Regions from separate parts of the Homo sapiens genome. Here all the other regions are linked to region 1. Evidence: fine-mapped expression QTL. A gene starts in region 1. Each other region holds a variant in brackets. All regions are shown on one strand. Distances are from middle to middle.

Region 1 (4,066 bases):
ACTATTGTTGACGATAATTTATGGTATATTTTAAAATAACTGAGAGTGGAATTGGAATGTTCCTAACACAAAGAAATGACAAATGCTTGAAGTGAGGGATGCCCTAGTTACCCTGATTTTATCATTACACACTGTATGCCTGTATCAAAATATCACAGGTACCCCATAAATGCAAACCCATAAAAATTAAAAATTTTAAAAATATATAAACTAGTAAAAAAAAAAAAAGTGGATTGTTGGTACTAGCTTTCACCTGTTATAATGAAAGAATGTGAGCTTTTTTAAATTGTAAGACCTTCCTGTTTTTCTTTTTTTTTTTCTTCTGAGATGGAGTCTCGCTCTGTCACCCAGGCTGGAGTGCAGTGGCACGATCTCGGCTCACCACAACCTCTGCCTCTCAGGTTCGAGTGATTCTACCACCTCAGCCTCCCGAGTACTGGGACTACAGGTGTGCGCCACCAGGCACAGTTAACTTTTGTATTTTTTCTTTTTTTTCTTTTGAAATGGAGTCTCACTCTGTTACCCAGGCTGGAGTGCAGTGGCGCGATCCTGGGTCACTGCAACCTCTGCCTCCCGGTTTCCACGCCCAGCTAATTTCTGTATTTTTAGTAGAGATGGGGTTTCACCCTGTTGGCCAGGCTGGTCTCAAATTCCTGACCTCAGGTGATCCACCTGCCTCGGTCTCCCAAAGTGCTGGGATTACAGGCGTAAGCCACCACGCCTGGCCGTTCTTTCTGTTTTTAAAGAGAATGTGGCTATCTGAATTTTCATGTGAAATCTCCAACCCACAATTGTTTTAAGCACTTTGGGGCTCAAGGTGGATGTACTCTGCTGCCAGTGTATGATTTCCATCTTTTTACAAACTGGAGTGCAGTGGCTTAAACACAACACACTGCAGCCTCAACCTCCTGGGCTCAAGGGATCCTCCTGTCTCAGCTTCTGGTATAGCTGGGACCACAGGCACGCACTGTGTGCCTGGCTCATTTTTTAATTTTTTTCTAGAGGCAGGGTCTCACTTTGTTGCCCAAGCTGGTCTTGAACTCCTGGGCTCAAGTGATCCTCCTGCATCAGCCTCCCGAAGTGCTGGGATTACAGACGTGACCAACTGTACCCAGCTGGTTTTTGTCTTAATAGGACTTGTGGGGGCCAGGCGCGGTGGCTCTTGCCTGTAATCCCAGCACTTTGGGAAGCCAACGCGGGTGGATCACTTGAGGTCGGGAGTTCATGAGCAGACTGACCAACGTGGTGAAATTCCATCTCTACTAAAAATGCAAAATTAGCCGGACATGGTGGCATGGGGCGCCTGTAATCCCAGCTACTAGGGAGGCTGAGGCAGGAGAATCGCTTGAACCCAGGAGGTGGAGGTTGCAATTAGCTGAGATCACACCATTGCACTCCAGTCTAGGCAACAAGAGTGAAACTCCATCTCAAATAATAATAATAATAATAATAATAATAATAATAATAATGGGACTTGGGGGTTTGTGAAAAGGGGATAAAGAGAAGAAGGGGATTATGGAAGGGTGAATGAATTGTCTCCTAGAAATAGATGGCAGTGGGGGCTTCTGACCACCCCCAACTAGGAAGAGCGTCCCTGGGGCTGAGGAGAGAGAGGTCTAAGGAATCTTGAAGAGAGTGTGGGGGCTATGGAATGACCACCTTCCATATAAAGGGGGCTTTGAAGGATATCCCAGGGGGCCAGGGGATCAGGAACAATGGACATTTCAAAAGTAACCTAGATGGATGCTGACTGGTGACGAGAGGGTCCTCATATCCCATCCTCCCCCCAGTACTTTGGCTTTATCCAAAATTTTAGTTCTGGACACATCCCTGGGAGAAGTGGGGACAACACCCTCCAAGAATGACTTTCGTGAAATTTTCCATCAACTTAGCAGAATGAGGCTCAGAGTCAAAACCTTAGTTGAGTTGCAGAAAACCAAGAAAGTTCTTGCACACTTGAGTTTGGGGACTAAGGTTTTTGCCTGTGCTCCCATCCAGAAAAGGGTGAGAATTGGTGAATTCTACCACATCCCCCTGCAGAGCCTAAGGGCCTCTCTCCTGTCTCAGCTAGCCTGGGGTGACATGTGGAGGAGGCACACATGGAAGGCGTGGACCCACGCAGAGTTCCCCAGATTGGAACAAGGACATGGAGAGGGTCTTGGTCTGACTTACCCCACAGGAGGGTTGCTCCAGCCCAGAGTATCCACCAGCTCCATAGGGCACCCATGGCTGCAGTAGGAAAAGAGAAAGGATCATAGAAGGCTGATCCACCGCCTCTGCTGGAGACTGTCCTGGGCAGAAGGGCCCACTCTCATGACAAGGGCCACCTGGGACCATGAAGGCTGAGGTGGGGAAAGAAGTCGGGCAGATTGGGCCAGGGGGTATGGATCCAAGGACCAGTGTGTGTGTATAGGGGAGGCTGGCTGTCCAGCGGGTCTGGAGGTGGGTTGGGGAGGGCAGAAGCCAGGGACGGGGTGGAGAGTTGGCTGTCTTGTGGGTCTAGGGGTAGGATGAGGAGGCCTACAGTCAGGGGCAAGAGTAGGGGACCTGCTGTCCCACTTCCAAAGGGGACCCCAGCCCTTCTCACCTGCAGGTCCCTGGAGCTGCAGGGCCAGCCCTGTGGCAGGGCTATATAGTGGAGTTTCTGGGCCACACCCTGGGCCACGTGCCAGGCAGATGATGCCAACTTCCTGGAGGAGGCTGCCATCCTCATGGCCAGATGAAATGGGAAACTGTGAAGGCCTGGGAAGGAGGGACAGTGATTCTGGATGCCTGGGTTCCAAGAAGGGAGTGAGGACAGCTGGTGGCCATTCCCTGGAAGCCTTCTGGAGAGTTTGGTCCTGGAAGGGTGGGGTCCCTGAGGGAGACAGCTGGGGAGCAGGCAGATGAGCACCTGGGTCCCTGGGTGGAGGTGGGGTAGGGTGGGGGTGTGGGCAGTGAGGGTGGGAGGTGGCATGTGGTCATATTTGCTGGCTTAGTGGCTAGGTTCCTTCCTTTGGCTCCTGCCAGGAACAACAGTGAGGGACCCATATCCGGGTCCTGGTTCCTTCTCAGTCCCCACAGGCTGGGGAGTCCCTAGCCACCCACATCCTGCTTCCAGACACCACTAGGGGCAGGTGTCTGGGATGGGCAGGAGTCTGAGGCTATGGAGTGGGACACAAGACCTCCACCGCAGCCCAGTGGGGCGTCTGCGGTTTCTCATCTGCAAAATGGGAACACCAAAACCAGCCTCTCTGGGCATCTTTACGTCCCAGAGATGTAAAAAAATTCTCAAGGACTGTAGAGCTGGGGGGCAGCCTCCTCTGGTGTGGGCGCAGGCCAGGCTGCAGGTGGGCACTGGGACTGAGGCGGTGTGTGAAGAAGGGACAATGGCCTCTGTTTCCTGGTTCCACACAGACACCCAGATTCTACTTCTGATCCCAGACACCTGCTCCTCAGTGGTGCTGGAAACAGGATATAGGTGGCCAGGGACTCCCCAGCCTGTGAGGACTGAGGAAGAGCCAGGACCTGTTGGTTTTGGAGTTTTTTTGTGTGTAGGGAGGGTTTGCTCTTAGCAGGGGCTAGCTGAACAGGTTTAGGGGACTCTGTGCCTCTCCATCACCCCAGAATTTGCCTGAGATGGGAGGTGGAGGTCTAGGTTGCACACAAGGAGCAGAAGAATGAGCTGAAAGTTGGGCTTTCTCAGCTGGAGTCAGCTCCTCTGAGGGGCTGGCCTGACCCATGCCCTGCCTGCCTTCTCCCTGACTCAGGATCTCATTGTTTGCTGGGGGAGTCTCCCCTGGGACCAGCAGCTGCAAAGCCTGGGTGCTCTCTTGGACCAACACCCTAGCAGCTGCTGCCCCTGGGGCTCCTCCTCTCTTATCACAGCAGCCTGGGCCTCTGGGAGGCCAGAGCGGGTGGGGGGCTTCTCTCTCCCTGGAGCTCCAACCAATCCCCACGCCCACCCAAGAAACGTTCCTGGAGGGAAAGATAAAGGCTAAGAGTTGACTGGGACATAAAGTCAACCAGGAGAATGAGGTGAGTAAATAGGAGACTGGCTAAAAGCCAGAGATAACAAGAAACAAGC
Region 2 (4,066 bases), 42 kb before region 1:
GCATCTGTGTGGATCTGCCCAAGGCTATGCCAGGATCCTGTTTCTTTCTGAGTGTATCTGACCAGTCAGTATAAAATTTAAGCAGATATCACTGAAGGTATGCGACTAATTCCATGTGACTAGGTGTATTTCAGTGTGTGCAACAGACCTGGGCCCTCTGACCAGCTGAAACTCACTAGGTCTTCCTAACAAGGGGTACTTTGCTATGTGACAGAGGCAGGGTCAGCCATCCCAATCTACATGCCTTGGATACCTGAAAGCATGGATCACCAATCCCTAAGAGTGTCCTGGACCCCAGGTTTCTTTTCTTTCTTTTTTTTTTTCTGTTGTTTGTTGTTTGTTTGTTTTTTGTTTTGGAGATGGAATCTCTGTCACCCAGGCTGAAGGGCAGTGGCACGATCTCGGCTCACTGCAACCTCTGCCTCCTGGGTTCAAGTGATTCTCCTGCCTCAGCCTCCTGAGTAGCTGAGATTACAGGTGCCCGCCACCACGCCCGGATAATTTTTGTAGTTTTAGTAGAGGTGGGGTTTCACCATGTTGGCCGGGCTAGTCTCGACCTCCTGACCTCAGGTGATCCGCCCGCCTCGGCCTCCCAAATTGCTGGGATTACAGGCGTGAGCCACCGCGCCCACACTCTGACTAGGTGTTTCTAACTGACTCTCTCTCACTGCAGTACCTGACTTGGGGCATTTCAGTGTGTCAGTGCCAAGGTGTTTCCTGACAGTAGATACCGAGCTCGGGAAGGAAAGTGGCCCCTGAGCCCCATGGAGGAGGAAGGGGCTGCTGTCCTACAGTCCTGGGAAGGGCAGGGAGAGACCCAACCATGTGGACCATGCATGGAGCAGTACTCACGACAGAAGTCCGGCCGCCTCCACTCGCGGAGCTGGGCCCCAGCGGCCTGACAGGCTGCCACGTAGGTGGCCACTGCAGGACAGAGGCCTCCAGGATGGCCCTGAACTTGGCAGGCGTCCAGCAAGCAGCCCTGGAAGTACTGCGCGGGCGGCACAAGGCCGTGGCAGGGCGCCAGCGGGCCGTCGGTGGCGGAGATCACGCCGCAGGCGTCCGGGCCGCCGAAGGACTCTTGCTGCTCTGGGGTGCACGGCGACGGGCATGGCTTGGACACACATTCCCCGCAGCCCTGGGCGCCGCCCACCTGCCATCCGGCGGGCTTCCCGCCCACCGCCTTCAGGTCGTCTGCGGGGTCCTGGTTGTAGTTCCCGCATAAGCCACAGAGAGAGCCCGCGTACGCCGCCGGCACGCGCAGGCGCACGAAGCTGTCCCCATCGAAAGCCAGCGAGAGCCCTGAGGTTGTGGTCACCACCACGTCGGCGCCGCTCAGGTGTGCGTGCAGGAGCGAGTCCAGCTGGAAGGGCAGAGTGACGAACACGCCGTCCACCTGTGGGCAGTGGGGGAGCGGTGAACGGAGCAAACACGGGTTTGAATCCTGGCCCCACTACCTACTAGCTGTGGGACCCAGAGCATGTCACCTCCCGCTGAAAATAATAATGAGCATCTATAGGCCGGGCCTGGTGGCAAAGCCTGCAATCCCAGGACTTTGGAAGGCCGAGATGGGAGGATCGCTTGACGCCAGAAGTTCAGATCAGCCTGGGCAACATAGTGAGACCCCCATCTCTACAAAAAAATGAAAAATTAGCCAGCGTGGTGGCGTGTGCCTTTAGTCACAGATACTTGGGAGGTGGAGGCCAAGGCGGGAGGATCGATTCAGCCCACGAGTTCCAGGCTGCAGTGAGCCCTAATCCTGTCACTGCGCTCCAGCCTGGGCAACAGAGTCAGGCTAAGAAAAGAAAGAAAGAAAGAAAGAAAAGCAAGAAAGAAAAAAAGAAAAGAAAAACAAAGAGCCTCTACTGGCTCATGTCACTGACTCCTTATCCTTCTCGAAAACAGGTACTTTTCCTAGACCAGTTTACAGAGGAATACACTAGGCTCACAGAGGAAGAAGCTGCTGTGCCAAGCCATCAGGCTCCTAGGCGTACACTCTGACCCTTCCATCATGCCCCAGCTAAGCTGTGAAAGG[G/T]GCCCAGGGGAATGGTGAAGCCCTTACCATCTCAGGCAACCCCAGAGCTGGCACTTGCTCCTGTCTGGCCCACAGCCCTCCTCACCTGTAGCTTCCGGGGCCAGCGGGCACTCAGTGTCAGGCTGTGGTTGTAGATTTGCAGGGTGACACTGCGGGTGTAGCTGACAGCCTGGCTGCCCCGGTGCTCATTGGCTACAGTGACAGTGAAGTTCTCAGCCCCCAAGGGTGGTCCGTGGCAGGGTGCACTCAGCAGGTACTCGCAGGTGCCTTGGAAATCGAATCGGTGCCCATCCAGAGTGACGTAATGGGGGTCACCCCACGCCTGGCACTCAGCTGTGCTGACGGGCTGGCAGCCGTGCTGGCCGGATGGCAGGAGGCCACACACTTCACCCAGCCCACAGCTGGCAGGTGTGCAGACCAGCGAGCCACCCCCAGGCCCGCAGCGACACCACTGGGAGCAGGTGCCATCAGCCCAAAACTCACTGCCCGCCTCGTGGTAGGTGCCATTGGCCCAGCAGCCGCAGCCGTTGTTGAGGGGAACACAGCGGTCAGCACTTAACACGAAACCCGCGTCGCACTGGCAGCCCTCCACACAGGGGCCCTCACATACGGCTGGCGTCGTAAGGGGTGCAGGGGACGGACAGCTGGCCGGGCAGGGTGGGCCACAGACCTCATAGTGGCTGTTTTCTGGGCAGGTGATCTCTGTGGGCAGATGAAGGAGCAGGAAGGAGAGAAACAGAAAGAAGGGTGTTAGGGGTGGGGTCCCAGAACAGGGTGGGAGGAGACAGAGAGAGACACTAGGGAGCAGACAGAGAAAGGGGGAGACAGAAAACAAGACACAGAGAGAGGACACAGAGAAAGAAATGGGAGAGGGCGAGACACCAGGAGACCCAAGCAGAAACTGAGGGAGCTAGAGAATGAGAAACAGACAGATAGAGACAAGCAAAGCGAGGCCCAGAGACGAGCACCAAGAAACAGAGAGACAAACAGAGAAAAAAGAAAACAAAGAGACCCAGAAGGACCAGAGTGAAACCAAACCAGCCCCGAAGAGATGGGACCCCGCCCCCAGCCCCGCCTCTGCTCCCCCAACACTCACCACAGCCAACCTGTGCCCGCCAGTCTTCGATGACAACCCCAGCAGCCTGGCAGGCGGCCACATAGGAAGCCAGAGCCTTGCAAAGAATGTCACGGTCCCCACCACCCATGCAGACGTCCAGAACACAGCCCTTGAAGAAGCTCTCAGGTGGCACATGAGCATGGCAGGTGGTGAAAGGGCCCCCTGTGCCGGGGGCCAGGGGTCCGCAGAAGCCAGGGCCCTCGTACTGCTCCAACCGGTCCTCAGGGCACGTTGGGCAGGACCCCCGACATTCGTCCCAACACAGTGGGTCCCAGCCTGGGGCTCGCCAGCTGCCGCCCCAGATGGGTATGGAGGGAGCCAGTGTGCCATTAGGGAAGACCTGGTCATTGTTGGGGTTGCGGTCCATGTTACCGCAGAGCCCGCACACTGCGCCATGATAGCTGCTGGGCAGCGTCACGTCTACCCGCCAGTTCCAGTCATAGCTGACTTGCAGTCCAAAGTCAGCCACCAGCAGTGCCTTCGATGCACCCTGGGTCACTGAAATCCGCCCGTCGGCCACAGAGACAGGCAAGGCTGTGAGCACACCGTTCACCTGGGGGAAGGAGGGAAGGCAAACGGGTCACTGGAGGTTTTACGGCCCCAGCTCTGGCCCTCTGCCTCCCTCTCTCTCATCCCACCGGGGGCTGGGAGAGGCCAGGGCCTTCCCCCGAGAGTTGGATTGTCATCTGACACACTGTGGACAGTTGTTCTAGCCCAGGTCTTGGGGAACGAAACCTCACTTTACTTTTTCTAGATCTTCTCCCTTCATCTCTATCTCCCTCCCCTGTCTCTGTCTCTCTCTCTGTGTCTCTCTCCCTCTGTCTTCACCTAAGGCTATGCCTCTGGGTCTTCTCTCTCTCTGTCTCTGTCTCTCTCTCTCTCTTTCTGTCTCTCTGTCTCTGTCTCACCCTTTT
Region 3 (4,066 bases), 36 kb after region 1:
CACAGAGAGAGGGACAATGATCGGCGGGATATAACCCAGCACTGGAGCCCGCAAGGCAATCCCCTTTGGGTCTCCTCCCATTTTATGGGAGCTCTGTTTTCACTCTATTAAACCTTGCAACTGTACACTCTTCTGGTCTGTGTTTGTTATGGCTTGAGCTGAGCTTTCGCTCACTGTCCACCGCTGCTGTCTGCTGCCATGGCAGCTGTGGCAGACCTGCCGCTGACTTCCACCCCTCCGGATCCGGGTGTCCACTGCACTTCTGATCCAGCGAGGCGGCACCCATTGCCGCTCCCAATTGGGCTAGAGGCTCACCATTGTTCTTGCGCGGGCTAAGTGCCCGGGGTTCCTCCTAATCGAGCTGAATAGAGCTATAACACTCACCGCATGGCCCAAGATTCCATTCCTTGGAATCCGTGAGGCCAAGAACCCCAGGTCAGAGAACAAGAGACTTACTGCCATCTTGGAAGCGGCCCACCACCATCTTGGGAGCTCTAAGAACAAGGACCCCCAGTAACAATAGCACTATAACACCCCTAAACTGGAAAATATCCAGTCTGAGGTATAGGGCATAGTCATAAAATGGAAACCATCCAGAATGAAAATGAAAGAACTATTTCTACACACGGTATGCATGAATCTCACAAAAACAACATTAACTAAAAGAAACCAAACACAGTACACAGAGTACTGGTCTAGAGAGAAGGAGAATTCAAAACAAACAAAAGTAACCCAGCTGTTACAAGTCAGGGCGAGTCCAGCCAGGCACAGTGGCTCATGTCTGTAATCCCAGCACTTTGGAAGGCTGAAGTGGGAGGATCATCTGAGTCCAGGAGTTCGTGACCAGCCTGGGCAACACAGCGAAACCCTATCTCTACAAAAAACATTTTAAAATTAGCAAGGCGTGGTGGCACACGCCTGTAGTTCCAGGTGCTTGGGAAGCTGAGGTATAGGATTGCTTGAGTCTGGGAGGTTGAACCTGGAGTGAGTAGTGATCTCACCACTGCACTCCAGCCTGGGCAACAGAGCAAGAATCTCTTTCAAAAGATATATTTTTAAAGGCTACATGGGGTGGGTCATGCCTGTAATCCCAGTGCTTTCAGAGGCTGAGGAGAGAGGATAGCTTGAGGCCAGCAGTTGGAGACTCTAGTGAGCTATGATCGTGCCACTGCACTCCAGCCTGGGCGACAGAGACTCTAGCTCTTAAAAAAAAAAGAAAAAAACAGATGAATGATAACCTTTAGAAGGGATCGGGAGGCCGGATGTGGTGGCTCACGCCTATAATCCCAGCACTTTGGGAGGCCAAGGCAGGCAGATCACTTGAGGTCAGGAGTTTGTGACCGGCCTGGCCAACATGGTGAAACCCTGTCTCTACTAAAAATACAAATATTAGCCTGGGCAACAGAGTGAGACTCCGTCTCGGGGCGGGGAGTGGAGGGGGGAGAAGAAGGGATGGGGGAAAGGGGAGCACATGAGGCTTCTACTGTTTGGTTTTGCGATCTGGATTCAGGTTGTATGGGCATGTTCACTTTGTGTAATTTTGTCGAGCTGTAATGATTTGTGCTCTTCTCTTTATTTAACTTCAATAAAAGGTTTACTTAACAAAAATTGTAGCTGGTGTGAAGGGTAGCAGTGTTTCCCTGGGGCCAAGAGTACAGGCTTTGGGGACAGACAGACCTGGGTCCCAATCTATGCTTTGTCCCTTCGGCACATTGTTGACTGTGGCTGGTGGCTTCGTGGCTCTGAGCTTGTCTCCTTCTCTATAAATGAGGAAACATAATACTTGCGACGATGATGCCTGTAAAGCTTAAGCGCAGGACCTGGCATAGATCTGTAAGGCGGAAACCTGGGATACAGAACTAAGGTCTATGGATCTCCTGTGCTACCCAACTTCTGGGCACTCGCTGCCTCCTTTTCCCCAGCCCAGACGCGTGGGTTCTACTCGATTGGTTGCTCACTGCGGGCTCGGGGCTCCTCAATCCCGGGGTAAAGCCCAGTATGAAATGTCACCTTCAGGGGCAGCTCGGATCTTCCCACGCCCGCGCGGCGCACAATCTT[T/G]GGATCAGCGCCACGTGGAGACCTTACCCGCCCGTACGATCAATCCCTTCTGTGGAACCCAGCTCAAGGACCCTCCAGCCCAGACACTAGAAAGCGAAGAGCAGTTGGCCGCCAGACTGTCCGTGCCAGAGCTCTGCGAACTTACTCCGTTGAAAGAGCAACGGGGCTGCGCCACCTCCCGGAGAGAACCCCCAGCCCTCCACGGCAGGGCGAGATGGCGCCACCGCGTGATACTGCGCACGCCCACAGCTCCCGTCCCGCCCTCGCGCCTGCGGGTACGGACAGCGCATGAGCTTATGTTGAGGGCGGAGCCCAGACCAGCCCTTCGTCCTATCCTGCCCTTCCAGCACCTCTCAGCCGTAACTTAAACTACACTTCCCAGAAGCCTCCTCAGCCAGGGACTTCCGTTGTCGTCAGCGGAAGCGGTGACAGATCATCCCAGGCCACACAGAGGCCGGCTTGGTCACTATGGAGGAGATAGGCATCTTGGTGGAGAAGGCTCAGGTACAGTGGGGACTTGGGCTTTTTAGTCCGGGCCGGGCTCGCGGGGAGAGGGTGAAGCCAGACCTGAGTGGGGGGAGGAATGGCTTCCAGGACCCCGGCCCAGGTTGGGGTTATTTTAGAGGCCTCGGTGGAGAGCTTTGTGCCATTCGAAGGCCTGTCTGGGTGGCCGAGTGATGGTAGGAGGTAAGGCTCAGAAAGCGGGGCTGGGGGAGTGAGTGACGTTAGTGGGTCTTTGAGACGGATTGATTTCGAACCCTGGCCGGTAGTGCTTAGTGAGGTCGGTGGCCCGGCGTTGGGATTGGGTCAGGCGGTGAGTGATATATGGGATCCCGCCGTGCGGCCGAGTGATCCCCGGGTCTGGGCTGCGGGGCTGACTGATGTTCAGGGCTTTGCTGATGGGGGTAATGGGGCGGGTAGTTAAGTATTATCTGTGGCTTGCCTGAGTGATATTTAGGTCTAAGGTGAGTTAGGAGACTGTGACATAAGGGATCTTTGAGGGGAAACTGGGGAATGTTGGGACTCGTTGAAGGCGCAGTCACTTTAACAGCCTATCTAGGAGAGCCATGTGACATTAGGAACCTCTTGAAGGGGATTGGGTGGCATTTGGGTCTGATAAGGAGTTGATGTGACGTTTAGATCCTAGTTGGGGGTTGTGTGACACTGGGGACATGTTATGAGTGGTATATGATAACATAAGATCTGTTTGAGGGGCAAGTTGACATAAAGAGCTTGTTTAGGTGGCCAAAAGGTTTCCAGGATCTATTTAGAGGGTCTTAAGATATCAGGGGTCTGTTAGGGGCTAAGTGACATCAGGGTGAAGTGGGGAGGGGAACAAACATTAGTGAAGTTGGGAAGCTTTCATGAGAGGACTGTCTTCTTCCAATGTGAGTTATCCCCTTTCGTCTAGGATGAGATCCCAGCACTGTCCGTGTCCCGGCCCCAGACCGGCCTGTCCTTCCTGGGCCCTGAGCCTGAGGACCTGGAGGACCTGTACAGCCGCTACAAGGTACATTCGACCCCCAACCCAGACCTTGCACAGGACCTGACATCTCATACTCTTCCCCACTTTCCACCACTCTCTGGATCAGCAAGTCTGGAGCCATCCCCTTCTGTCCCCTCTCTGCTCGCAGAAGCTGCAGCAAGAGCTGGAGTTCCTGGAGGTGCAGGAGGAATACATCAAAGATGAGCAAAAGAACCTGAAAAAGGAATTTCTCCATGCCCAGGAGGAGGTGAAGCGAATCCAAAGCATCCCGCTGGTCATCGGACAATTTCTGGAGGCTGTGGATCAGAATACAGCCATCGTGGGCTCTACCACAGGTGTGCTAAGGACACCTCATTCATTCATCTGTCCACTTAACAACTATTTCCTACCATGTGCTAGGCAGCAGCAAACAAGGCAGGGCAGTGCAGTGCAATGTTCTTCAGAGTATTTTGACTGATCGAAAGGTAGAAATACATACATATATATATATATACACATATATATATGTATATCTATGTTTTT
Region 4 (4,066 bases), 68 kb before region 1:
TGGTGAATTAACCCTTCTAAAGTTAGATTCCCTAGAGAAACTTCCTTAAAAGACTTGTCTTTTTTTTTTTTTTTTTTGTAAATCCTTCTTTTGTTTGTTTGTTTTTTGTTGTTGTTGTTGTTGTTTTGTTTTTTGGTTTTGGTTTTAGTTTTTTTTTTGAGATAGAGTCTTGCTCTGTCGCCCAGGCTGGAGTGCAATAGCGCGATCTCAGTTCACTGCAACCTCCGCCTCCCGGGTCCAAGTGATTCTCCTGCCTTAGCTGGGACTACAGGCATGTGCCACCATGCTCGGCTAATTTTTGTATTTTTAGTAGTGACAGGGTTTTGCCGTGTTGGCCAGGCTGGTCTCTAACTCCTGACTTCAAGTGATCTGCCCGCCTCGGCCTCCCAAAGCGCTGGGATTACAGGCATGAGCCACCATGCCCAGCCCTCTAAATGCTTTTGTATCTGAGTTTTCCTCTGCCAGATGATTGGAGAGATAGGTAGATAGATCTGAAAAGACAGATGGGTGGGTGGGTGGGTGGGTGGATGGATGGAGGGATGGATGGGTGGATGGGTGGATTGGTGGGTGGATGGATGGATGGACAGATGGGTGGGTGGATGGAAGAAAGAAGGAAGGGAAAAAGACTAGAAGGAAGGAAATAGGAAAAAGAGAAGGGGGTAGAATAGATGCTGGAAGGAAGGAGGGGAAAAGGGAGGATGGGTGTAGTGAAGGACAGATGAAGACTAGTGGATGGAAAGTCTCAGTAGGGTGCAAGCTTTCCAAGTATAACGACTGAGTCCGAGTCATCTCTGTTACCCAGCACATGGCCTGGCACAAAAGGAGCAGGGCTGAGTTTATTCACAAAACCAGCCTTTTACTGAGTACCCTCTAGGTGCCATGCCCTGATCTGGGTACTGGGAACAAACTGGTGACCAAGATGGACAGGATCCCTGCCTACCTGCGGCTTATAGTCCAGTGATGAACAAAGATGCTGAGCATCTTCTGGGAGTTTCCTTCTAGGAGTCTGGAATTTTGGTAGGTGGATACCAAAACCCCAGGCACTGAGACTCTATGAATTTCCCTGGCAGATGACATTTCATGTTTCATCACAACTTTGTTGCTGGAGGAATTAAGCACATCCTGTGTGACTCTACCGAGAAAGGACTCTCGGAAGCTTGCACATGATTTCCCCTGGACTTTGTGCGATGCACCTTTTCCCTGTGTCAATTTCACTTCGTATCTTTTCCCTATGATACATCTTAGCCCTAAGTACAACTATATGCTGAGTCCTGTGAGTCCTAGTGAATCACTGAACCAGGTTATGGGAAACCCTGACACATTATGTGACCCCCCACCCCCAGCCTTGACCAATCACGGAACTTCCTCCCTAAAGTCACAGTGATTGGCTCCAGGGGTGGGCATGTGACCCAAACTGGCTCAGTGAGATATAATCCTGGGTCTTTTATTGAACCATTTTCTGTTAAGGTAGATAAGCTGGTGGGGTGTAGGCCTGGGCAGCTGGGCGGGGGTCGTCTTTACACCTGTAAGTGGAAAGCCTGTTTGAGAACAAAGCTGATTTGGCAAATAGCAAGTCTCAAAGACGGAAGTACAAATTTCTGATAATATTGCCAGGGCACCTAGAT[C/A]CAGCCATTCCTGAGGCTCTATCCTGGGATTTTCTAGCTACATGGACTAATAAATTCAATTTTGCTTAAGGCAGTTTGAATTTGGTTTTAAGTCACTTGCAACCCATAGAGTCTCGATTCATACTAATGTCAAAACTATTAAGTTGCTTGAGTATGTTTTTGCTCCTCTAGAACTCAGCCAGAACAGAGGGACCAAGTTTGAAATATTGAGATAAATACAAATCCAGAGACTAAACCGCAGAGACCTGGATAAAGAAAACAGATCGCAAGACAGAAAGGAAGCCAGGAATGTGGGGACACTGTAATCAGAAGAGCAAAAGCCCAGGGAGACATTCCCTACCCCCTACTCACAAACTTACCCACACACCCTTGTTTGGAGTCAACGTCACCATCCCATCCTGGAAGAAGATGTGGACCTGGCCCACAGCCTCCGTTTTGCCATGGCAGATCTGGACTTCGGCAACTACACGGTACCAGGGGATGGTATTCTGTAGTCCTGGGCAGCGGGAAGAGAGCTCATAGACACCAGGAGAGGTGGTGGCACCACGGGCCCCATCAAAGGTGGTGAGGTTGGCACCCACAGACAGGACACAGAGACCACGGGTGGCCCAGCAGTTCCGGGCTTCAGCCTTGACCTCACATACACGGCCTGGTGGGCAGCCAGCTGCCTGGCATGTCAGGCCAGAGCTTGAGGAACAGGAACAGCGCTCGCTGCAGTCTGAGGTCAGCAGGGAGGAGTTTACCTGTGCACAGAAAGGGGCCAGGTTATGGTGGTGGGATGGATCGCAAAAATGGCCACACTGCTTGAACCCTCTGTATCCATGCAGAGTGACTTTACAGACTCCCATTAAGAAATAGAGTTTATTTCCCCCTCCCTATGAATCTGGGTTGGCCGTAAGACTATATTTAGGTCAATGAAACACAGAAGAAGCAATGTTGTAACAGGTTTAAGCCTAGACCTCAAGAGACCTCACAGCTTCTCTTTCCTTCTCTCTCTCTCACATACACAGAATCCTGCCCAGCCACCATGAGAACAAGCCTGGGCTAGCTCCCTAGAAGATGAGTGACCCCATGGAACATAGATAACTCTTCCAGCTCAGGCCACCCTAGACCAGGCAGCCTTCAGCTGACCCACCAGCTGACTACAGATATTATACATGAGTAAGCCCAGAGGATAGCAGAAGAACCACCCAGCCAAGTCCAGCCTAAACTGCAGTCACAAAATTGCAAACTAAATGAATAATTGTTTTAAGCCACAACGTTTTGGAGTGATCTGTAACCCAGCAAAAGCTAACTGATACAGGTAAGAAATGAAGAAATGTAATTAACAAAATAAATGCCATCTCTACAATGATGATTTCCACATCTCTAGGCCAGACCTCTCCCATGAAGGCCAGACTCACAAATCCAAGACTTCGGGCATAGGCAGAGGGGTCAGGGCAGAGATGGGGAAGCATAGGGAGCTGAGGGGTTCAGAGGAGGCACCTAACCCAGCCTAGGGGATCAAGGATGGCTTCCAGTAGGCAGTGAGACCTCAAGGAAAGAGCAAAATTTGGCTCCATTTGCAAGCAATGCAAGTTAGTGCTGCATGTTAATGGCTAGCCTCGGGCTGACTTCTCTATGTCACAATTTCTTCATCTGTAAAATGGGGAAAATAGTCATAGTATCTATTGCATAGGATTGTTGTGATTATTAAATGAATTAACATCCAGAACATGGCCGGGAGAGGTGGCTCATCCCTGTAATCCCAGCACTTTAGGAGGCCAAGGCAGGAGGATTGCTTGAGCCCAGGAGTTTGAGACCAGCCTGGACAACATAGCGAGATCCCATTTCTACATAAAAATTAAATAGTCAGCCAGGGATGGCAGTGTGAGCCTGTGGTCCCAGCTACTCAGGAAGCTGAGACAGAAAGATCGCTTGAGCCCAGGAGTTTGAGGCTGTAGTAAGCCGTGATCATGCCACCGCACTCCTGCCTGAAAGACAGAGTGCAATCCTATCTCAATAAATAAATAAATAAATAATAACACCCATAACAAACATGGTGCATAGTAAGAGCTCAAAAAAATTATTAACAAGAATAAATCAATTCTTCAATTTAATTCATATTATTAAACAATTATTAGCTGGGCTACCTATTTGCACTGTTGTAAACTGCTATTTCTTTTTTTTTCTTTTTGACATGGAGTCTCGGTCTGTTGCTCATGCTACAGTGCTGTGGCACAATCTCGGCTCGCTGCAACTTCCACTTCCCGGGTTCACGGGATTCTCCTTCCTCAGCCTCCCGAGTAGCTAGGACTACAGGTGTCCACCACCACACCCAGCTAATTTTTGTATTTTTAGTAGAGACGGGGTTTCACCATATTGGCCAGGCTGGTCTCGAACTCCTGACCTTTTGATCCGCCCGCCTTGGCCTCCTAAAGTGCTGGGATTACAGGTGTGAG
Region 5 (4,066 bases), 250 kb before region 1:
TTCAGGAATGGGGGATGAACCATCCCATTTCTGGAAATGTTGAGACCCAGACTTAGCAAAGGCTAATTTGTTGATTTAAAGAGTGCTCATAGATGACCATGCCCTTCTACCATCCTCCTTTCTGACTTAGAATGGGAAAAGTCATGTCATAGAGGAGGAGCTGTGGGCTCAAATAGTGGACAAGGCAGTCAGTACTTTGCAGAGTGTCAATCTTGGTCAGAGATGGATGCAAGGCAAACCCTTTGACCAGGGCACACAATGACATGGCTTCATGAGAAGCATGGAGGCTGAAGTGCACAACTTCCCACCCTCACTCCATCATCCTCATCTGTGCCTTCCCTGGCGATTCCCTGCCCCTTGGTGTGACCCTCCGTGTCGTTTCTGCTGCAGCACAGTCACAGGCCTGAAAACTGAAACTGAGTCTATTTCTGCCACCCCTACTCACGCTGCTGAGAAATCTTCCTGGCAGGGGTTCAGAGAAAGAAATAAAGCCAGAGGGCAGGGCCAAGAGGGACTATTTAAGTGCTGCAAATCAGAGACTCACACAGAAGACCAGATACTATTCTGAAGAACTACACAGAGGGAGACAACAATGTCATCACTAAAAGTAAGTCAAAAGACACAGCCTTTAATAAACTCAATTCACATAAACCAAGAAAGAATCAGGGGTGATTTCACAAGACGAAAGTATGAGAGTTTCTCTTGTGAACACTTTACTGAGAGTTGTGGGTGTGTGAAAGAGAAACCGTGCGGCTATGATATCTGAGATGCTGGTGGAGTGTGGGGTGTGGACTCTGAACCAGTGTAACCGTCTGTGAGTGCATGGTGGTGTCTGATGAGAGTAACCTCTGCTGAGATGATGTGACTTTAGGTGGGAGGTGAACAGCCCACCAGGGTGGGCGGGTGTGTGCCTGAGTGTAAGGGTGTAACTGCGTTTTGTCTTCTTGACTGTGATGTGAGTGTGTGTGTGAGCACAGCTGGACCAGTGTGTGAGCATCTTTATATGCACAGTGAGCAGGTGTGTGAGACTCAGTGAGTGGCATGGCTCTGTGAGACTATGGGTGAGTGTGTGCTGGGATGTGACTGGGTGTTGAACTGGGAGCATGCAAGGGGCCTTCTGTGCATGTAAAGTTTCCTCCCAACACAGCAGCGCCTCTGATGAAGCAGCTGGGCACTTCCCATGTGTCAGTGTGTGTCCCATGTGTGAACAGTGTGGGTGGCAGAACTGGTGCGCCTGTTGTGAGCCATGAGTTATGGAGGAGTCATCTCTGAGCAGAATGCGTGAATCCTCAGGTGCCTCCTCCCAAGCAGAGTGGGGAAAAGGAACACAGACTATGGGGCCGATGGTTCCTCAGGTGGGGTCTGTCCAGAAAGGCCATCTGCTCCTGCCTCCAGCCTCAGGTCTCTCTGTCTCCCAGCCTGTCCATCCCATTGTGGGAGAAGAGGGTGAGCAGATCCTGGCTCACTAGGGAAGGCCTTTGGGGGATGTGGGTTCGGAGACTGAGTC[G/A]CCCAAAATAGAGAAGGAATCAGTTTATTCTTAGTTCATACAGAGCTTACAGTGCATATTAATCAATAACTTGCCAGGGTTTGTGGCTCATGCCTGTGATCCCAGTGGTTTGGGAGGCCAAGGTGGAAGGATCGCTTAAGGTGAGGAGTTTCAGACCAGCCTGGGCAACGTAGTGAGACCCTGTCTGTACCCAGAATTTAAAGATTATCCAAGCATGTTGGTGTGCACCTTCATTCACAACTACTCAGGAGGTTTTGGCAGGCGGATCACTTGAGTCCAGGAGTTTGAGGCCACAGTGAGCTGTGACCATGCCACTGCAATCCAGGCTGGGCAACAGAGTAAGATCCTGTATCAAAAAGACCCCAAACCCCAACACCAAACAGAGAAATGAAAATCAAACAATATTTAGATTACCTCCAATGACTTCCCTGGCCCACACTCTTCATGTGTGCAGGTACTGGGGCTGTGCTGCCAGCAAGGTGTCCCCTTCTGGAAAGGACGTCCATGGCCCTTGATGATTGTGATGCACACGGGGGTTTCCAGTTCTTTTAGCATTTCTCTCTCTCTTTCAACAAGTGTTGTTTCTCACTGGAGTGAATCTCTCTACTCTTACATCCTCACATCTTGTTTTCACAGCTTCAGTGTTGAAAATAATCACAGGTCGGTGTTCCAGAAGCAACCTCCCTGTTCTAATGGGTAACCCCCAACAGGCTTCATGCATGGCAGAGATTAGGGCAAAACTTTCACATATATTAATTCATATATTACTGGAAAAACCCTACAAAGCAGAAATTTCTGCTTATCCTCCTTGTCCTGGGGAAACTGAGGCAGGGAGCGTTCAAGTAATGGATCTAAGATTGCACTGCTAGTAAGAGGCAGAATGAGGACTGGAACCAAGGCAGCATGGATCCTGAACCATTGCTCTCATGTATGGGTCACTAATTTCTTCAGGAATATGCCGCCCTGACCGCTACGGTGGGAGGGAGGAGGCTCACAGTTTGCCCTTTGACCTCTAGCCTCCTGCACCATAGGAATCTGTTACGGGGGGGAGGCCACACCTGGTCCTGCCCCTCCCACCCACTTTCAATCCCCTGGCAGGTACCACACACACGGCCTGTGTCCTTGTCTACTGGTTCTTGTGTGATAATCACAGGGACACCGATCATCCCTTTCGTGTGAGTACTCCATGGTCCATGGCAGGGGGAGGAGACGAAAGAACATTTGCTAAAGGGCTGACCTCCTGTGTGAGTGATGTGAAAATGTCTAGTTGGCAGGATGGCAGCACCATGCAGGTGCAGGTCCTGGAGACCCTGCAACACCTGGCATGAAACCTGCAGTGGCCGCACTGTGAGCTAGTCATGGGGCCTAGGGGAGGAGGACACTCAGGGCATTGGGACTGTGGCTCTTTATCAAGAGGCATAGAATGTTCAGGAAATTGACAACTCATAGGCCTAGGTCAGTGACTGTGGCTGAGTTTACATCTTGGGATGAGGGAGCTCTTAAGGGCAGGAGGGGCTGAAGCAGCCCCACAGGGACAAGACTGGCAGTATCACCAGGAAGGCCTGTGTCTGCTCTGGGGAAAGGGGGGAAGGGATTTGTGTGTGTCCAGTGTGTGCCCCACAAGGGAGAGACCTGCCCAACACACCGTGTGCTTTACCCTCAGCATGGACCCACAGCTGCAGGTGGATTTCCATACCGAGATGAAGGAAGACTCAGACATCGCCTTCCATTTCCGAGTGTACTTTGGTCATTGGGTGGTCATGAACAGCCGCGTGAATGGGGCTTGGCAGTATGAGGTGACATGCCACAATATGCCCTTTCAGGATGGTAAACCATTTAACCTGTGCATCTCCGTGCTGGCCGATGAGTACCAGGTGAGCCCCCCAGGAGCTCCCAGCACCCACCCTCCATGGGCTCCCAGAACAGGAGGCAGCTCTTCCTGAGCTGACCCCACCAGTTCCTCGGAGCCGATCTCCCATAACTACTCCTGCCCCAGGCTTTTCCTCACAGAGCACTCTCTGCTTGCACTGCCATCCTCAGTTCTTCTTCCAGATCTGACCCAGGGTCAAGGTGGGCTCACCTGCCATTTTCCCCAAGGTGGAGAATCTTGTCTGTCTTCACCCATAGTTCTCATTCCCATGTATGCTGTTACTTACATAGTCATTCAGCCAAATGGATAAAACATGCATATGAATAAGGTTATTTTATCAGTCCAAAATGTAGTCTTTCTCTCAGTACTGAACCCCAATCCTACCCCCAGAACAGCAGTATTACTAGCTTCTCTACACAAATTCCAGAGCTAATGTATGCTTATGGAAGCATACAGATGTGTGGTTTCATTTCTTTTTAAACCAATGCTGTTTTAAGTTTCTCTACACATTACACTTTAGAAACTGGGGTGGATTTGTTGTCAAACGCTACATGTTGGAGCAATCATCCATCCATGGTGCCGCCTCAGTTTTTCAACATCATACAATATTCCTGTAGCAGGGTTACCCAAAATTATTGAACTTGATCCTTTTGATGGACATTAGGCTGGTTCCAGTATTTTGCGCTCAC
Region 6 (4,066 bases), 49 kb before region 1:
CTTGAAGCCCGTTTCTGCTGTTTCCAAAGTGTGTGACTCTGGGCAGTTACTTCACCTCTTTATGGCTCAGTTTCATGATCTGCAGATTGCAGATGATAGTAGCGCCTGCCTTTGGAAATATAACTGAGTTATATTCAGATAATAACCAAGTTATATTCAGATAATAACCAAGTTATATTCAGACATGTAAAATTTAGATAAAATGAAAAGGGTAGGCCGGGCGCGGTGGCACATGCTTGTAATCCCAGCACTTTGGGAAGCCGAGGCGGGTGGATCACGAGGTCAGAAGATTGAGACCATCCTGGCTAACACGGTGAAACCCCGTCTCTACTAAAAATACAAAAAATTAGTCGGGCGTGGTGGCGGGCGCCTATAGTCCCAGCTACTCGGGAGGCTGAGGCAGGAGAATGGTGTGAACTCGGGAGGCGGAGCTTGCAGTGAGGCAAAACTGCGCCACTGCACTCCAGCCTGAGTGACAGAGCGAGACCCCATCTCAAGGAAAAACAAAAACAAAAACAGAAAAGGGTTTCCTTTAAAACATTCAGATAGGAGAGATACGTGGGGTAGACATCAAACAAGATCGGGAGAATATGGCTTATTTTTGAAGCTAAGTGATGGGTAAGTACATGGACAGTCATTCCACTATTCTCTTAATTTTTGCATGTTTGAACGTTTTCAGAATAAAAAGTTTTTAGATATGTAATGCATATATAAAAATATGCACACATAGCACTTAAAACGGTACCAGATACATAGTAAGCACTATCTACACATTTTCTGTTATTATTAATATTATTTATGTGAGGAGAACAACAGAGAGAGGGTTCCACCCCTAGGAGAGCTCACAGTCCCCAAGGGAGATGGACATTAGACAAACACATGCTCCAGTCAAAGAAAAAGGACCTACGGGGACAGAGTGGGAGAGGGAAGTAGAGGGTGTTAGCAGCTGGTATAACACATGGAAATCTTGTCTTTGTGGTCAGAAAGGCTCCCTTCGTCCAGACCTGGAAGGCAAAGCCACAACTTGACCTGGGGAGTCAGGGGAGGGTTTAAAGCTTCAGAGCCCGTGGTCATATTTAGAAAGATCTTTACCACTGCCACGTGGAGGGTGGACCAGAGGGAGCAGAGGTAGGAGCTGGGAGGGACCCAGGTAGGAGAGGACCAGCTGGACCAAGGGAGGGCCATGGGGACGGGGAAAGGAGTGGGTACAAGAGACACTGAAGAGACTGAGTGGACTAGCTGTGGTGGCTCCCGCCTGTAATGCTCGCACTTTGGGAGGCCAAGGCAGGAGGATCACTTGAAGTCAGGAGTTCGAGAGCAGCCTGGCCAATATGGCAAAACTCCACCTCTACCAAAATACAAAAAAATTAACCGTGTGTGGTGGCACGTGCCTGTACTCCTAGCTACTCGGGAGGCCGAGACAAGAGAATTGCTTCAACCTGGGATGCTGAGGTTGCAGTGAGCTTGAACCCGAGAGGCGGAGGTTGCACTCCAGCCTGGGCAACAGAGCAAGACTATATCTTTAAAAAAAAAAAAAAAAGAGGCTCAGTGGGTCGGGCATGGTGGCTCATGCCATTAATCCCAGCACTTTGGGTGGCCAAGGCGGGACGATGGCTTGAGGCCTGGAGTTCACGACCAGCCTGAGCAACATAGTGAGACGCCCCCATCTCTATGTGTCCACAGGAAAATTAAAAATTCGCTGGGCTTGGTGGTGCGCACCTATAGTCCCAGG[T/C]ACTTGGGAGGTGAGGTGAAGGATTGCTTGAGCCAAGGAATTTGGGGCTGCAGTGAACTATGATGGTACCACTGCACTCCAGCCTGGGTGACAAGAGTGAGACCCTGACTCTAAAAGAAATAAATAAGAGGCTAAGTAGACAGGCCGTGGGGCTGATGAACAGTGGGAGGGGTGAGACCCCATATTCTGCCCCAGATGACTAGGTTCCTACCTCATAGTAGACACCATTGTGGTAGCAGCCACATTGCTGGATGGGCACGCAGGCTTGGCCGTTGTAGAGGAAGCCGGAGTCACACTGGCAGCCCTCAGCACACCCATCTGGGCACTGCAGAGGGGCACTGAGAGCCGAGCAGCCCAGGGAGCAGGTGTCCGCACAGAGCTCGTAGTGACTGTTCTGAGGGCATTCCATGGCTGCAAGGAGGGGGTGCCGATCAGAGCCCTGGGGAGGGAGGGGCTGCAAAGCCCAGGGTCTACCCCTTCTGTGCCTCAAGCTCTCCCCTCCCTGCCCCTCCGGCTCTCCCTCACTCACGACAGAAAGTTTCATTCCTCCAGGGCTCCACGTGGCCTCCAGCCGCCTGGCAAGCACTCACGTAGGCATGGATGTTGCTGCAGAGAATGCTCAGGTTCCCACCACCCAGGCAGAGATCAAAGATGCAATCTTTCAAGGGACCCTGGGGATCCACCAGCTTGTGGCAGGAGGACAGTGGCCCTGTGGGGCTGGAGAGGAGCCCACAGAACTCCTCCTTCTGATACTTCTTCTCCAGCTCGGGAGGACACTTGTCGCTGGGGATACAGCCCGCGCTCCCCGGCGGGCAGGTGGGCGGCGGCAGGCAGGGAGAGTCGGGCACCACCTCCTCCCAGGAGTTGCCGAACTCATTGGCGTTGCCTGCCTGCGAGCCATTGGGCTTCTGGAAGTCATCCTTGGGGTCGCCGTTGTAGTTCCCACACAGGCCACACATCAGCTGGTAGTAGTTTCCAGGGACGGTGACCCGCACATAGTACACAAGGTCGTAGGCCACACGCAGGCCGAAGTCGGTCTCAATCACAACATCTGAACCATGCTGGGAGGCACGGATCTGGCCGTTGGCCAGCACCACGGGCAGCTTCATGTCCACACCGTTCACCTGGGAGGGGAAGAGAGGCAGGCCACGCTTCAGAAAGTATACTTTGAGTGAGGGTGGGACCCTAGTTCAAGCCCATGCCTGATGCTGATCTTTGTGACCTCACCTCTTAGGCCCTCAGTTTCCTATTTATTAAATGGATATAATAACAGGGCCTGATAGTAGATTGAATGGTGGTCCCCAAAAGACATATTCACACAGAATCCCATAGCGTGAGCTTACTCGGAATAAAGTTCTTTGCAGATGTAATCAGGGTAATAATCTCAACATGAGATTATCCTGGATTAAATTGGGCCTTAAATCCAATGACTAGTATCCTTATAAGAGCCAGAAAGAAAAAGGCAAAGAGACACACAGAAAAGGCCACATGAAGATGAAGGCAGGGATTAGAATGGTGTTGTCACAAGCCCAGAGAACCTGGAGTCTGCAGAGCTGGAAAGGGAAAGGAAGATCCCCCAACCAGTGTCTTTGGAGGGGGTGCAGCCCTGCCCACACCTTGATGTTGAACTTCTGGCACCCAGGACTGTGGAACATACATTTCTAGTGTTTTAAGCCACCAAGCTCGTGGTAATTTGTTATGGCAGCCATGGGAAACGAATACAGGTCTCGATGAAGTAACAAGCCTCCAGCTATCCTTTGTTTACCGCTTGCTGCAGCCATTAATAAGCAATGATCGCCCCCGGAGCCACTTGCCCGAGTTCAAACAGTTTCCCCCTTACCCTCTTTGTGACCTTGGGCAAGTGAGTCACCTCTCCCTGTTTCTGTTTCCTCATCTATCAAGTGGGAATAAGGCGTTTGCCCCATGGAACTGTTGTCAGGATCACATAAATTAGTATCTGTAAAGTGCTGAGAAACGTGGCTGGCATAGCATGCATGCTTCAGGAGCATTTGCTGTTATTAGCAGCTATGAGTGGAAGTTTTTCTTCTGAAGAGTAAACAGAACCACAGGTTTTTGCTTTAAAGCATCAGCGAGTGGAAAGTTAGGCTAAATTCTTGGGGAAATGAACTTAAACCTATGAGCTGAGGACCAGTGGTTTCAGTTAAAGATTTACTAGGCTCCAACAAAGCCTGGTAAATCCACCCCTGGACAGGGCACAGTGGCTCATGTCTATAATCCCAGCACTTTGAGAGGCCAAGGCGGGAAGATCACTTGAGCCCAGGAGTTCAAGGTCAGCCTAAGCAATATATCGAGATCCTGTCTCTACAAAATAAA
Region 7 (4,066 bases), 83 kb before region 1:
GGGGAGAAGGACCCATTCTAGATGGCAACAGCCGCATAACCACAGCCCCTACAGAATCTCAGCTCCATGCATCTCACGCTCTGCCCGTCACCTCCTGTCTCTCCAGCTCACTCCTTCTAAAGATTGCACCAGTGAGCCTTCAGCCCTAACCATCCATTAAGCTGTCTGACTTGTTGCTATCCCTCCCCCAATCATGGCCACACCACTCTCAACTACCTAGCCAGATTCCCCACCATCATTATTACCACACCTTTGCATACCTCCAAACTATGAACTGAATTCAACCCTCCATTTATTCTGCACCTGCACCCCTGGCAGCTGAATGTGGATGGAGAAAAATACAGAATCACCCTGGCTGGTCTCGGTTTTGATTCATGACTACAAACCCAAATGCTTAATGCTGACCAGCAATCCTATCACTTGCCCCCAGTCTATTCATTCTCCATTTTTTCCCACCCTGTTGATGGTATAGATAACACATGGCCATGGGCTGAATTGTCTCCCCACACATTCACTTGTTGAAGTTCTCACCCCCATTGTTATGGTATTTGGAAGTGACAGCATTGGGAGGGATTAGGGTTGGAGGAGGTCATGAGTGTAAACCCTCATTATGGGATTAGTGACTTTATTATTATTATTATTATTTTTGAGACAGAGTTTTGCTCTTATTGCCCAGGCTGGAGTGCAATGACATGATCTCGTCTCACGGCAACCTCCACCTCCCAGGTTCAAGCGATTCTCCTGCCTCAGCCTCCAGAGTAGCTGGCATTACAGGCATGAGCCACCACGCCCGGCTAATTTTGTATTTTTAGTAGAGACGGGGTTTCTCCATGTTGGTCAGGCTGGTCTCGAACTCCTGACCTCAGGTGATCCACCCACCTTGGCCTCCCAAAGTGCTGGGATTACAGGTGTGAGCCACCGTGCCCGGCCAGGATTAGTGACTTTTTAAGAGGGAGAGAGGGAGAGATGCAACCCAGGAAGAGGGCCCTCACAGAGAATCACATCAATCAGCACCTTGATCTTGGACTTTCCAGCCTCCAGAGCTGTAAGAAATAAATCTCTGTTATTGGAACCATTCAGTCTATGGTATTTTAAGACAGCCCACACAAACAAACACACATGTATTAATTTTTAAAACTTTATTAAGGTATAATTTACATACCATAAAATTCACCCATTTTGGCTTGGCGCGGTGGCTCATGCCTGTAATCCCAACACTTTGGGAGGCCAAAGCAGGCGGATCACGAGGTCAGCAGTTTGAGACCATCCTGGCCAACATGGTGAAACCCCATCTCTACTGAAAATACAAAAATTATCTGGGTGTGATGGTGCATGTCTGTAGTCCCAGCTACTCAGAGGCTGAGGCAGAAGACTCGTTTGAACCCGGGAGGCAGAGGTTGCAGTGAGCCAAGATCATGTCACTGCACTCCAGCCTGGCGACAGAGTGAGACTCTGTCTCAAAAAAAAAAAAAAATTCACCCATTTTAATTCTATTGTTCGTTTAATTCTGGTAAATTTACAGTTGGGCACCCATCACCACAATCCAATTTCAGAAAACTGCCAACACCCCATTTCATACAAATGGAATCATACAATATGTAGCCTTTTTTTTTTTTTTTGACTTAGCATAATGTTCCACATTGTTGCAAATTTCTTTTTTATGGCTGAGTATTTCATTCTCTGGAATTTCACTGGTCTGTTCACCTGTTGATGGGCTTTTGAGTTGTTTCCAGTTTGGGTTATTATGAATAATGCTGCCATGAACATTCATGTACAAATATTTGTGCAGATTTACTCTAATTTTTCTTGGGACAAGCCCTAGGAGTAAAATGGCTGAGTCATATGCTGAGCATGTTTACCTTTTGAAGAAATGGGAACACTTTTTTCCAAAGTGATTGGGCCTATTTTATTTCTTTTAGTTTCTTTTTTTTATTTTTTTGAGACAGAGTCTTGCTCTGTCACCCAGGCTGGAGTGCAGCGGCGTGATCATAGCTCACTGCAGCCTTGATATCCAAGGCTCAAGCAATCCT[C/T]CTGCCTCAGCTTCCCGAGTAGCTAGGACTATAGGTGCCCGCCACCAGGCCTGGCTAATTTTTGTGTTCTTTCTAGAGACAGGTGTCTCACTATGTTGTCCAGCTGGTCTCAAACCCCTGAGCTTAAGCAATCTGTCTGCCTTGGCCTCCCAAAGTGCTGGAATTACAGACGTGCACCACTGCACCCAGCCCAGACCCATTTTTTTTTAAGAATTATTTTACACTTTCTCCTCTTTCTTCAAACCTTAAAACTTTCTCCTCCCTTCTTACTCTTTGTTGTTCGTCTTGCTTCCAAGGAGATAGAAGCAATGACAAGAGAACCCCAACATCCTTCTATCCCAATACCTATCAGCCGCCCCGCACCTGTTACCATGTATGCTGGCTTCCCATGTGTGACTGTGGATGACTCTCTGTTACCCATCGCAGTGCCTAGCTGTGTGCAGGTTTGTTATATAGGTAAATCTGCACATGTACCCCTTATATAGGTAAATTGTGTGTCACGGGTTTGATATACAGACTATTTTGTCACCCAGGCAATAGGCATAGTACCTGATAGATCGGTTTTCTTTTCTTTTCTTTTTTCTTTTTTTGAGACGGAGTCTTACTCTGTTGCCCAGGCTGGAATGCAGCGGCGTGATCTCGGCTCACTGCAACCTCTGCCTCCTGGGTTCAAGTGATTCTCCTACCTCAGCCTCCCGAGTAGCTAGGACCACAGGCACATGCCACCACGCCTGCCTAATTTTTAAAATTTTTTTGTAGCAATGGAGACTCACTATGTTGCCCAGGCTGGTCTCTAACTCCTGGCCTCAGCCTCCCAAAGTGCCACATTATAGGCATGAGCCACCACTCCCAGCCATAACGTTCTGTATTTTGACAGAGGTTTGGGTTCATTTCAAAACAACAAATTTATTCTTTAGATGTGTACATTTCACTGTGTGTGAATTTTACCCCCAAAAAGGAACTGTACACAAACTTGAGCTCCAGTTAATGCTACGTGTGCTGAAGTATTTAGAAGGAAGCATAATGATGTCTGCGACTTATTTTGAAGTGTGTGTGTGTATATATATATACAAATATATGAACACATATATAAATATATATACATGTATAAATATACATATACATATATATATATTTTTTTTTTTTTTGAGATGAAGTTTCGCTTTTGTTGCCCAGGCAGGAGTGCAATGCTGAGATCTCAGCTCACTGCAACCTCTGCCTCCCAGGTTCAAGCAATCCTCCTGCCTCAGCCTCCTGAGTAGCTGGGATTACAGGCGCCCGCCACCACACCCAGCTAACGTTTGTATTTTTAGTAGAGATGGTGTTTCACCATGTTGGCCAGGCTGGTCTCGAAAACCTGGCCTCAGGTGATCCGCCTGCCTCGGCCTCCCAACGTGCTGTGATTACAGGCGTGAGTCACCACACCTGGCCTGAAAAGTGTATTTTAAAAGAGGGATCAAAGGCTGCATGAAGGGATGGATCAACGGATGGATACATAATAAAACCAGTATAGCAAAATGTTAATTACAGACTCTACATGGTGGGTAGATGGGTTGTCTCCATTTGTTTTGTGCTGCCATAATAGAATTCCTGAGACCGGGTGATTTATAAGGAAGAGAAATTTATTTCTCACAGTTCTGGAGACGGGGAAGCCTAAGACGAAGGCACCAGCATCTGGTGTTGGGTGAGGCCCTTCTTGCTGTGTCCTTACATGGCGGCAGGCAGAAGGGCAAGCAGGGACGAACACTGTGTCACCTCATGGCAGAAGATCAGAAGAGAGCAAATCCAATCCCAAGGATTACAGCAGTGTTAATCCACTCATAAGGATGCGGCCTGAGCCCTCAGGACTTAAACACCTCCTGTTAGGCCCCACCTCCCAAGACGGTTGCACTGGGGGTTAAGTTTCCAACACATGAATTTTGAGGGACACTTTCAGACCATACCAGGAGTGCTGACTGTATATTTCTTCAAACTTTCTGCATGTTTGAAAAGGGAGGAGAGGGCCGGGCATGGTGGCTCACACCTGTAATCCCAGC

Evidence for each region. PIP is the estimated chance that this variant, and not a neighbour inherited with it, causes the effect.
Region 2: its variant is fine-mapped to the expression of FCGBP in whole blood (INTERVAL, PIP above 0.99).
Region 3: its variant is fine-mapped to the expression of FCGBP in fibroblasts (GTEx, PIP above 0.99).
Region 4: its variant is fine-mapped to the expression of FCGBP in whole blood (TOPMed, PIP above 0.99).
Region 5: its variant is fine-mapped to the expression of FCGBP in whole blood (INTERVAL, PIP above 0.99).
Region 6: its variant is fine-mapped to the expression of FCGBP in whole blood (INTERVAL, PIP above 0.99).
Region 7: its variant is fine-mapped to the expression of FCGBP in whole blood (TOPMed, PIP above 0.99).

The regions. Positions count from the first base shown.
Region 1 is chr19:39,932,392-39,936,457 of GRCh38, forward strand. It overlaps FCGBP (Fc gamma binding protein), which reads right to left and starts at 2,243. Exons shown (of 36, transcript NM_003890.3): 1 at 2,173-2,243. The coding sequence starts at 2,227.
Region 2 is chr19:39,890,791-39,894,856 of GRCh38, forward strand. It overlaps FCGBP (Fc gamma binding protein), which reads right to left. Exons shown (of 36, transcript NM_003890.3): 20 at 3,132-3,705; 21 at 2,121-2,737; 22 at 853-1,396. Among named protein-coding and RNA genes, the nearest start is that of FCGBP, 42 kb to the right of the region's middle. The variant G/T (reference allele first, on the strand shown) is at 2,036.
Region 3 is chr19:39,968,677-39,972,742 of GRCh38, forward strand. PSMC4 (proteasome 26S subunit, ATPase 4) reads left to right here and starts at 2,489. Exons shown (of 11, transcript NM_006503.4): 1 at 2,489-2,562; 2 at 3,470-3,568; 3 at 3,693-3,879. The coding sequence starts at 2,527. LOC124904720 (a long non-coding RNA gene) reads right to left here and starts at 2,295. Exons shown (of 3, transcript XR_007067260.1): 1 at 2,204-2,295; 2 at 1,678-1,760. RefSeq lists enhancers at 1,809-1,858, 2,359-2,748, 2,773-3,452. The variant T/G (reference allele first, on the strand shown) is at 2,059.
Region 4 is chr19:39,864,753-39,868,818 of GRCh38, forward strand. It overlaps FCGBP (Fc gamma binding protein), which reads right to left. Exons shown (of 36, transcript NM_003890.3): 34 at 1,985-2,368. Among named protein-coding and RNA genes, the nearest start is that of FBL, 20 kb to the left of the region's middle. RefSeq lists an enhancer at 1,677-2,876. The variant C/A (reference allele first, on the strand shown) is at 1,626.
Region 5 is chr19:39,678,828-39,682,893 of GRCh38, forward strand. It overlaps the pseudogene LGALS17A. Among named protein-coding and RNA genes, the nearest start is that of LGALS14, 24 kb to the right of the region's middle. The variant G/A (reference allele first, on the strand shown) is at 1,508.
Region 6 is chr19:39,883,730-39,887,795 of GRCh38, forward strand. FCGBP (Fc gamma binding protein) reads right to left here. Exons shown (of 36, transcript NM_003890.3): 24 at 2,262-2,856; 25 at 1,944-2,143. Among named protein-coding and RNA genes, the nearest start is that of FBL, 39 kb to the left of the region's middle. RefSeq lists an enhancer at 1,988-2,489. The variant T/C (reference allele first, on the strand shown) is at 1,733.
Region 7 is chr19:39,849,270-39,853,335 of GRCh38, forward strand. No RefSeq gene overlaps it. Among named protein-coding and RNA genes, the nearest start is that of FBL, 4.9 kb to the left of the region's middle. The variant C/T (reference allele first, on the strand shown) is at 2,031.